Homo sapiens: one gene and its partners. The protein of the gene in region 3 purifies or fractionates together with the protein of the main gene of each other region. This does not show direct contact. Each region holds a gene or a part of one and is shown on either strand. Other genes may lie near its edges. The genes, in order: KRABD3, ZNF318 and C6orf141.

Region 1 (3,650 bases), on a different chromosome or scaffold from region 3:
ACAGGGGCTGGAGTACAATGTTGTGACCTTGGCACACTGCAAATTCTGCCTTCCAGGTTCTCCTGCCTCAGCCTCCCAAGTAGCTGTGATTACAGACACCCACCACCATGCCTGGCTAATTTTTGTATTTTATTAGAGATGGGGTTTCACCATGTTGGCCAGGCTGGTCTTGAACTCCTGACCTCAGGTGATCCACCCACCTGGGCCTCCCAAAGTGCTGGGATTACAGGCGTGAACCATCACACCCAGCCTGGGACAGTTTTTAGAATCACTGACTTGGGTGGGTGCAGGGGCTCACGCCTGTAATCCTAGCACTTTGGGAGACCAATGTGGGAGAACCACTTGAGCCCAGGAGTTCAAGACTGGCCTGGGCAACATAGTAAGGTCCTGTCTTTTTTAATTAATTAATTAAAATAACTGCCCTGAGCAGATGAAACAAGCGGTGAATTGTCTTTGCTTTATTAGGGGCGTGTTCATTTTCTTTAATAATTTGTTCTCACAAATAAACAGTTTAACATTCATTTCTCAACAGGAAGGACCCTTCCCATAATTTACCTTCTGTTTGCTTAATTTGCACAGTTAATTTTTGCCATAATTTTAAATTCAAGCCTATTGATGCTGGTCATTTTCTAGTGTCTGATGGCCACTTTAAAGTCCACTGAAGGACTTTTTTTTTTTTTTTTTTTTTTTGAGATGGAGTCTCGCCATATTGCCCAGACTGGAGTGCAATGGCGTGATCTCGGCTCACTGCAACCTCTGCCTTCCGAGGTCAAGCAATTCTCCTGCCTCAGCCTCCTGAGTAGCTGAGATTACAGGCGCCCACCACCACACCTAATTTTTGCATTTTTAGTAGAGACAAGGTTTCACCATATTGGCCAGCCTGGTCTCGAACTCCTGATCTCAGGTGATCTGTCTGCCTTGGCCCCCCGAAGTGCTGGGATTACAGGCGTGAGCCACCACACCCAGCCGAAGGATTATTTTGTAAAGAAACATAGACAAAAATGCTCGTGTTATTTTAAAAAGCCACAGGGTAGGAGGAGATGAGTACAGAGAATAGGAGATAGGAGTACAGGGTGTAAAGGAGCCTGGTGACCCAAAGCTTCCAAGGGCAACCCCAGGTTTCTTCTGAGCACTTCTCTAAACCCAGCACACAAACTAGGTGGACAGCAAGAATGTCTTCTCTCACAGCCCTGCAGACCCGAAGCCCTACGTCACAGTGTGGGCAGGCCACACTCCCTCTGAAGGCTCTGGGCCAGGATCCTTCTTGCCTCTTGTGGCTTCTGGTGGCCCTGGGCATTCCTTGGCTTGTGGCTGCATGACTGTAGTCTCTGCCTGTCTTCACACAGCTTTCTTCTTTTGTGTCTGTCTCTGTGTCTCTTCTGATAAGGAATGAGTCATACTGGACTAAGGGTCCCCCCTACTTAGGAGTATGACCTCATCTTAAGTAATTCCATCTGCAGGGACTCTGTTTCTAAATAAGGTCCTACTTACAGGCGTGAGGGTTAGGACTTCAGCGTGTCTCTGCAGAGACACAGCTCACCCCCAGCACTGTCTCTTGAGGGGATTCCTGCATGTCAGACCCTGGCTATTATCCTGGAGTGTGCGCCTGGAGGCCTAGGTGGGGTTACCAAGTGCAGGGACAGCTAGGCTGTCCCCTCTGGGATGGAACAACCAACCCCCCCGGAGACTGTGCCTGCAGGTGTCCATCACCTTCAAGGACTTGGCCGTGCGGTTCTCGGAGGAGGAGTGGCGGCTCCTGGAGGAGGGGCAGAGGGAGTTCTACCGAGACGTGATGCGGGAGAACTACGAGACGCTGGTCTCTGTGGGTAAGGACGGGAGGGAGCAGCACGTGTGGCAGGAGCCTGGTGGGCGGTGGAAGGGAGGCCGGAGTCCCTGGACCCGGCAGCCTTAGTCTTTCCACCTGAGAAATGAACACGGGGATCGTTCACGCTGCTGCTATTCTATGTCCCGGGACCGGGTTCTAGGTACAATTCGGTGGGGGTATGCGGCGGCCTCTGAGGTTCCGACCACTCTGCGGTTCTTTGAGTTTAAGTGGTCACATGAATGTGCACAGACCTGCAGGGGCCTGGGCTGCTATGCAACTGTGTGCGAAGCGGAGACCACTCCATTCCCAGGGCCACAGTTCCCTCTTCTTTCCCAGGGACAGCTGAGCTGCTCCCCCTCTCTGCTTTCCTGTCACCCTCAGAGCCTGGAAGAGCTGTTGGGGGAGGGAGCCACGCTGATGAGGGGCAGGAGCCTGCTGGTTGTGGAGATCCCCAGGGTAAGTTATCTGTCAGACTTTGGGTGTCTCCTCCCACTCATCGGTCCTCAGCCCCAGGCAATGCGTGACCTCAGCCTACTCAGTCCAGCCTCTCACCTCCCTGCCTCCCCTACTGCAACCTCCCAAGCTTTCACCCCTCATCCCTCTGGGCTGGAAGCCTGTTATGCAGAGAAGCACTCAGAGAAAGCCTGGGGTCACCCTGGAGAGTACCTCCTGCCTCAGGCCCCCCACCCACCACCACCCTGAAGCCTTATCACAGCCACCCCTGCAGAACCTGCTCCAGCTCCCAAAAGTCCTGCCACGAGGCTTACATCCCAAGACCTCAGATGGTGGATGTGCTCCACCGGCCCAGACTGGGCAAGGCCAGGCATTTAGGGGGTGCCAGGAAAGGCAGAGGGCCCAGATGGTGGAAGAAGTGTAGCGGCAGCCCGCCTGGGCATTCCCCTGGGAGGCATGGAGATTAATGAGTAACGTAGAACAGAGGAGCCCTGTTACCCAGGCCCCGCCCCCATGCCCTGGCTGTCCCTTGGCCAGAGCGCCTGGCCTGAGCCCAGGTCCTCTATATCTCATGGGACATGGTGTCTCCTCTGGCTGCTCCTCATGTGGCTGGGAGGATTACGTGAGATGCTGGGTGTGAAAACACGCACGTAGGTGTGAGTGCTGAGCAGCCGCAGGGGTGCGGGGGGGTCACTGTGGCCTCTCTGCAGGGGGACAGCCCCGGCACAGCCTGCACCTCACAGCCCTGGTGCAGCTGGTGAAGGAGATCCCAGAGTTCTTGTTTGGAGAAGTCAAGGGCGCTATGGACAGCCCCGAGAGCGAGAGCCGGGGAGCCAGCCTGGATGGAGAGAGAGCGAGCCCCGAGGGTAAGTCAGACAGTGGGGCAGTGCACGCAGCCTCCTCTGCACTCCGCATGATGAAGCACAAGTCCACGGCACTGCACTGCATGTGGGCTTGCAGGCACAGGCCGGGAGGCAGAGTCACCTGCTGTTCCTCGTGGCTAGGCCGTGTGCCGCCCTCTGAGCACATGCCCATAGCTGGCGAGAGGGCAGCTCTGACTTTCGCATGGTGGTTTCTGTGTGGCTTTGTCACCCTCCACCCACCATGGCCCCATTCAGAGCCCAGTGATGACAACACATAGGTGGCTGACATCCTGGTCATTGTTAGTACATGGCAAGGAAAGGACCCAGAATGTGACAGTGTGACAATGTTAGGGGCATCTTACCAGTTGTTGATTCTCCCTCTTTCCCGACAGCAGCTGCGGCAAGAGAGCCCTGCCCTCTCCGAGGCCTGCTCAGCTGCCTTCCAGACGGCCCTACCAGCCAGCCCCACCTGGCCACCACGCCCACCGACAGCTCGTGTTCCAGTGGCC
Region 2 (3,650 bases), 6.2 Mb from region 3:
TGTCAAAGTAATATTTCGTTCTAAGTTCCAGAATAGAACTGTCCATCTTTTCAAAAACTATACTGTCCAGAAAGGTTGTTTGTTTGTTTTTTGCAGGAAGGATCTAGGGCACTGATAGCAACTATTAGATAGTGGTTCTAAGTTCCAAAGGGAACCATAGATAAAGGAACCATATGTGTTATAGGTAAGGGACATATTTCATGTTGTTTATTTTCACTGCTCCTTGCAAACCAGGGATAACCCATAGGCAGTATGCCCAGAGTAGCATGTTGTTTAATCCTCACATTTTCACTATTTTATAGTCAGAAAACTGAAGTTGTACAAGATTAAGTAGAATACTCAAAGTCACACATTAAGAGTAGATTTACAATCCAGGTATATCTGCCCTAAAGCTCATGATCTTTCAACTATACTACTACCTAATGAAAAAAAGCAAATATGGCTTGTCTATACTATACCAGCATATAATAGGCCTGTATGTGTCTATAATAGACCTATGTATTATCAGCGCCCTGACTTAAGGACTAGATTTATAAAAGGAAAATAAAGAGGAAGTGTATGACCTCCAAACACTGTCTCTAAAGTTTTGTCTACATTGAACCTATTCCCTTTCCCAAAAGACTTCAGTAAAACTAAAGATTGAAGTTCAGGGTATTTAAGTCCAATAGAAACTTAAGAGAAGTGTTTTTTGTCTTCCCAATAATTGGCTAAAACTTTTTAACCGGAAAAAAATGAGACTGGCCCTCTAATTTTTTTCTTCAGAACTTTTTTTTTTTTTTTTGAGATGGAATCTTGCTCTGTTGCCCAGGCTGGTGTGCAGTGGCATGATCTCAGCTCACTGCAACCTCCATCTCCTAGGTTCAAGCAATTCTCCTGCCACAGCCTCCTGAGTAGCTGGGACTACAGGCGCGTGCCACCACACCCGGCTAATTTTTTGTATTTTTAGTAGAGACAGGGTTTCACCGTGTTAGCCAGGATGGTCTTGATCTTCTGACCTCGTGATCCACCCGCCTCAGCCTCCCAAAGTGCTGGGATTACAGGCATGAGCCACCACGCCCAGCCAGGTCTTAACTTTTATGAGCAAACCAAATTAGACACATTACATTTTTATGTTTCTAAACAAAGTGAGTTGCTAGGTATAAGCACCTTTACAATTAATAGTATGTATTAACTCTTCCACTCAAAATTCTTCTATTATGTATTCCCTATCTTGATGTAGTTTTCACCTACTGCTCTAAATTATCAGAATTATTAGAATTATTATATCTTTACCCCAGTCACTGCTTTCTTCCCACAGGCTGGGGACCCAATGAACCTGGATAATATAAAAAATGACTTTAGAGGCCAGGCACAGTGGCTCATGCCTGTGATCCCAGCACTCTGGGAGAGGCTGGCAGGGGAGGATCACTTGAGCCCAAGAGTTCAAGATCAGCCTGGGCAACAGTGAGAAGACTCCATCTCTATATAAAATATACGTATACATACACACACATACACACACACACACACGTAATTTTTTAAATAAATAACATGTCAAAAATGTTACTGTTACTCCTGGACTCTAAGATAAACCAGAACAAGCAAAGTTTATTTCTTGGTTTGCTTCAATTATCAAGCAACAACTAGTTATTAACTTTAACTCATAATCATTACAGGGTAAGAATACAGAATTCACTGGGATCAAACAGGTTTACTGATTCTCCTTCACCACACCCAATTTTGGTTCCCTACTCCACTACGAAATCATATTGAAGACTTCAAGGCTCCCAGTTCCTATCTACAGTGTTTGAAGACCATTAACTTGGATAGAATTAAACTTAAAAAAGGCTGACAATCACAATAGGACCCAAGGCCAGACTTTTGTTTAGTCCTAATGATAAAACATGTGTGAAAAACAGAGGAACAATATACACTTCTTAGGATGATGACAGCAGCCTCCAGACGACTTCAAGTGAAAGAGCCTTACAAATTTTCAGCCCCTTCTAAAAAACATATACAAATTTATGGCAAAACAGAAAACTCAGGCACAGGATACCCAAAGCTAATATTCACCTTTTGCTTCTGGGAAGCACGGTTCTTCTCATCAGAGATCTTCTCTGGATTATATCTTATGAGTGATGGAATGGACACCTGGACAGGCACTTGGGCCGCAGGAATTGAGCCTCGCAGAGACTCTTTCTGCTTAGGCTTATCAGGAGTCACAGTGGGGATCACACGAAGATTGGGACGGCTACGAGTAGCTTGTTTGGTTATTGGCATTATCCTGTGTGGTTCAGGTACAGGGTGGTTTGACGGTTGAGAGGTGGGATACATGGGCCATCTGGAGGCTGCATATGCCATGTAGTGCCTATAGGCATCAAAAGAGGCAGGGGGAATGGCAGGTCCCTGGTAGTTCGGAGGTATCCGAGCTGCAGCAAACTGAGAGGCCCTTGGCATGTGAAACTGAGATAAAGCAGCAGTGTGTGGAAGTCTAATTGGGGCAGATGGGGCTGATGGCAACATGCACCTGACTGCAACAGATGACTGAAACCCACTACCAACCACCTCTGGTCCTGAAATATGACCCACTGGATGGTCAGACTTTAGGAATGGAGGGCTGTTTTTTGTGAGCAGGTAAGGATCCACAGGAGAAGGTGGGTGTGGATGGGACACCTCTGGAGAGTGGGTATTGCTATGATGTGCCTCCCTGCTCTCTAGTCTGTGGGGATCTGAGGAACGTCGATCAGCTGAGAAGCAGTGGTCAACTGAGGAACAGCGGTCAGCTGAGAAGCGGTGGTCAACTGAGGAACAGTGGTCAGCTGAAAAGTATCGGTCAACTGAGGAACGGCGGTCAGCTGAGGAGCGTAATGATGGCTTCTTGCCATGAAGTCGTTCCTGGGTGCGTGCAGCCAATTGACTAATCTCTGCTACTCCAATATCCAGCCCTATTGTCTTGAGCAAGTCATGGATCTTCGCATATTCTGGATTGGTCTCTTCTAGTGATTCTAGCTTTACAGCTGGAGCTGAAGACGGCAGGGAGCTTGCCTTCTGCCTCATAACTTCACTCTCAGAGCTCCCAAGGGGCTTTGGTACGGATTCTGCCTTTAAATCCTCTTCTTCATCCCCATAGAGAAATTTCTCCTCATCTTCAATGTCGGGAAAGCTACGTCGCCTTTTTTCCTGTGTACTGGTAGAATCAGCCAACATGCTCAGAATGCGGGAAAAACCACTGCCATCCTGGCTAGCTCTCTCATGGGGCAGCAGGAAGTCTGTGTGTCGCTCAGGTCCCTCAGCCTTCAAATCCAAATTATCCTTGTGGCATAGAAAACTTCCAAATTTTTCTCTGAGAGGACTGTTGTCTTTGGGAATCCCAGGAAGGGGACCCCATTGGTAGAGGTTGCCCTGAGGTTCCTTCAAGGCAGTCTCTACCATAGTCCCCTTGTTTTCAATCTCTGAGGCAAAAGCAGCAATAGCACCACTTAGTGGAAGGGATGGGTGCCCAGAGTAGAGAGGGTGATCCTGGCTGGAGCTGGTACTGCTGGAAAAACTCTCAAGCTGCAAAGACAAACACAACTGATTTAGTCTTATGCAGAATCTCAGAACATTAGTAATTGAGATAAATACTTAAATACTTTGGTCTTCCTGAATTAACAGGTGAGATACAAGTATGG
Region 3 (3,578 bases):
AAGAGGTAGATCAGATGATCTTTTGAGAACACTTCAAGCTCTAAACTAAAAATGAAGGCAAAAGGGAAGACTGGGGAAGGAGGCACTTTTCAACTATTTGCTCATCAAAAGCCAGAGTCCTACCTGCTTTGTTAATTCTTGCAGTAAATACTCCTTCAGGTGGTAAAGTCAAGCAGTTCACCTGGAGAGGGCTGCTTTGCTCCTCACAGAGCTTCAACCAGGCCAACTACTAAAGAGTTAATTCACATAGTATTTAATAATAAAGAGGAACAAACAAAATAAGAAAAATTAGTTGTTTCAGTATTACCAGAGGAGATTTTTTTGAACTACACAAGGAGAATGGTATCTTCAATCTATTCTTGACTACAAGTCTCATTAATGAAGAACTATGGAAAAGAATAAGACATGCATTCATTTTATGGCAAACTACATATTGCTATCTACCTTTAGTTCAGAACATTTACATGCAGTATTTTTAATATTAAAATTAAAATGTATGATAAATGCATGTTTACAGGACTAAATTAGCTATTGTTTGCAGTAAAGCCTTTGTAAATGGAATTTCACGTTGAAATCTTAGTCTTCTGTCCCCAACTCCTTCTTTCCCTAGCTCCTCTCGTTTTCTTTCTAACACTGAAATGTGGGGGAGAAAAATGAAAAGTGCACATCAGAAGAGAGTCACTTGCTGCTTTGGTTTTACTTTCCCATTTCTTTTTACTTTCTGTTTTTGGCTTTTAAAACAAGCCTCTTCTCCACCCACTCCCACCCTCTTTGCAGAGAGCAGACTTCAAACTTCACTTCTGTTTCTAGGTCCTAAAGAGAAACAAGAGGGGGGCGGGGAACAGAAAAGAGATCAATTGAGAGTTATTCCAAAATGCAAATTAACAACAGGTTTTCTCATTTCAAAACTCCCACATTCTGCCAATCTGAAAATATCTTTTCTCCACCTCTTCTGAATGACTTAGGTCCCCAGACAGCGAAGGAATTCAAGCCACAAAGGAGGTATTATGCTGCTTACAGTTCTTAATCTGCCTCCCCGAAGCGCTGCACCAGCCTCTCAAAAGGTTCCTTCTGTAGGTTAATTGCAGGTTGGAGCTCCCAGAATAGCATTTTCTTTTAAGGATGATCGCTCATCCACCATCCCGGAACATTTCTCGAGCTACTCATTAGAGTTTAATTTCCTCGAGCCAAGTCCCTGGAGACGGTGAAACCCTCCTCCCCGCGGCGTGGACGCGGGATGCCCCTGTTCGTGCCTGGAGAGCCCGGGATTCAGCAGGGCCCCAGCGTTCCCCAGGCTGTCCCTCTCTACTGCTGCGAAAAGTGAGCGCGGTCACGAAGTGCTCCTCAGTCCTCGTGGTCATGCGACCCTTGGCCCAGGAGGTCTGCAACACTTCTTGTGTTACCTGATAATCCTCCACCCGCACAAGCACGTATTTGGGTGGGTCTGCTGCGTCCCGCGGCGGGGCTACACGCCTGCCAGAAATTCGCTTTTGTCGTTGAAAGACAGAAGGGTAGTTGGGCTCCTCGCCGTGGTCCTCTCCACCCGCATGAGGAAGGTCCTCTGCACCGGCCACCTCTTCCCGTGCAGGGTCCCCTCGAGTCCCTAACCACCTCTCTGGGTGCAGGAGAAAGAGCACTTTCTCTCTGACCCAGGACTCACGGTCCAATTCCTCCCCGGCCCGAGGTCCGAGGGCCCGATCTGCCGTTCTGTCCTCGTGGCCGCCGCCCTGGCTTCGGCTCGCCCCTGCCGTCGCGGGATTCCGGGCGCCCGGAGCTAGCGGAGCCCCGCGCCCTACCTCCCGCGGAAAAGGCCCGAGGTCCCCCAGGCTGCGGGAGGAGTCCATGGGATTCGCAGCTCCCTGAGGCCCCCGGGTCTCCATCCTGGCAAAAGGGTCATTCATTCGTTCCTTCTTTGACCGGTTCAAGCAGCAAGCGCCTGCTGAGCTCCGGAAAGCGCGGGACCACCAAGCCCTGGGTGTGGCCTCTGCTGCAGCTCCGGACTCCCAGCCGGTGAAAGCTGAAGACTAGATCAGCCCCAGGCTAACCGCGTGCGGAACCCGCCTCTTCACCCTCCGCCTCTCCCACCTGGCGGCTGTCTAGCCATTCAGAAGAAGCTTGACACAAGCCCCAGTCACTCCTCTTCTTCCTCCTACCCCTGTCCGGAGCCCTGCTCCCTTTGTCATTCGCTGATTCAGTCCCCTCTTACTTTTCACCTCTATCCTAGTTTCCCACCCACCTTTCGTTTTTCTCCGGAGCTGAGGCGCAAAGGACACCCTCGCACTGCGCCCCCACTGAAATGCCCCGAAGTATGTTTGCTTTCCAAGGACGCTCCTTGAGGTGAAGGAACAAAGAAGTTTGTGTGCATTTTAATTAGCTGATCTAATTCTGAAAAGGGTTTTTGTCCATTCCGAATCCACTCCCACCATGCTGCCAAAATAATGGAATGTAGATCAAATGGTCAGACTGAAAAGCTGAAGCCTTGGAGAAACTGGTTTTGGTTTCTTTGTCCTTCTTCCTTTAGAATGCCAGAATCTGTAGCTCTGGAGGACAATGGTCACACCTGTGTCCTCCTCCTCCTCTTCCTCCTCCTTCTTTTTTCCCGCTCTCTTTCTCTCTCCCTCTCCCCGCTCCCCCTTCCTCTTACCCCACCCCCCCACATTAGATATGGTCTCGCTCTGTAGCTCAGGATAGAGTGCAGTGGCGCAGCCTCGACTTTCCAGGCTCCCACCTCAGCCCGTCAAGTAGCCGGGACTACAGGCGCGCACCCCCATGCCCGGCTTTTATTTATTTATTTATTTATTTATTTATTTATTTATTTATTTATATTTTTCTAAGAGATGGTAGGGGTGGGGCTCTCCTATATTGCCCAGGCTGGTCTGGAACTCCTGGGCTTACGAGATACCCAGGATCCCCCACCCTACCCACACACCCACCTGGGCCTCCCAAAATTCTGGGATTACAGGCTTGAGCCACGGCCCTGGCCAGTCTTCATTTTGTGTGTAATCAACGCTTGTCTCAGGAAGGTGTAGTCTTTGATTTAAAACAAGCTATAAAACAGAAGCAAAACAAACATCCAAATGAATTTTTTCAGGACTTAAAATTGTTTGTGTTTGTGTCGTTTATAAAATTCCCTCTGCACCCACCCGTCCTCTTTAACCACAGGGGTTAAAAAAAGTTAAGTGTCTCTGGCGAGGCTTTTAGAATTTACCCATAGGCAGGCCCGCTGACCACTACTCTTTGCCTAAGGTTAACCGGGGAGGCTAGGTCATAGAAAAAGAGCTCAGTTTGTGGTTTCCAGTTCATCCTTAGCTGTTTGTTTTATTAAAAAACCCACTGATGGCTGGGTGTGGTGGTTCACACCTGTAGCCCCATCATTTTGGAAGTCTGAGGCCGGTGGATCACTTGATGCCAGGAGTTTGAGACCAGCCTGGTCAGCATGGTGAAACCCAGTCTCTACAAAAAGTACAAAAATTAGTCAGGCATGGTGGTACACACATGTAAGTAATCCCAGCTACTTGGGATGCTGAGGCACCAAATCGCTTGAACGGGAGAGGGGGAGGTTGCAGTGAGCCAAGATC

What was found.
Region 1: the proteins of C6orf141 (region 3) and KRABD3 purify together in Homo sapiens (affinity purification with mass spectrometry; 2 studies listed by BioGRID and IntAct, with this or other methods). This does not show direct contact.
Region 2: the proteins of C6orf141 (region 3) and ZNF318 purify together in Homo sapiens (affinity purification with mass spectrometry; 2 studies listed by BioGRID and IntAct, with this or other methods). This does not show direct contact.

The regions. Positions count from the first base shown.
Region 1 is NC_000007.14:149,717,847-149,721,496, forward strand, and holds part of KRABD3 (protein KRBA1), read left to right. Parts: intron 1-1,622; exon of another isoform or gene 1,623-1,699; coding exon 1,700-1,826; intron 1,827-2,161; coding exon 2,162-2,281; intron 2,282-2,988; coding exon 2,989-3,144; intron 3,145-3,533; coding exon of another isoform or gene 3,534-3,536; coding exon 3,537-3,650.
Region 2 is NC_000006.12:43,352,612-43,356,261, forward strand, and holds part of ZNF318 (zinc finger protein 318), read right to left. Parts: intron 3,535-3,650; coding exon 2,053-3,534; intron 1-2,052.
Region 3 is NC_000006.12:49,549,116-49,552,693, reverse strand, and holds C6orf141 (uncharacterized protein C6orf141), read right to left. Parts: upstream 2,027-3,578; 5' UTR 1,902-2,026; coding exon 1,167-1,901; 3' UTR 599-1,166; downstream 1-598.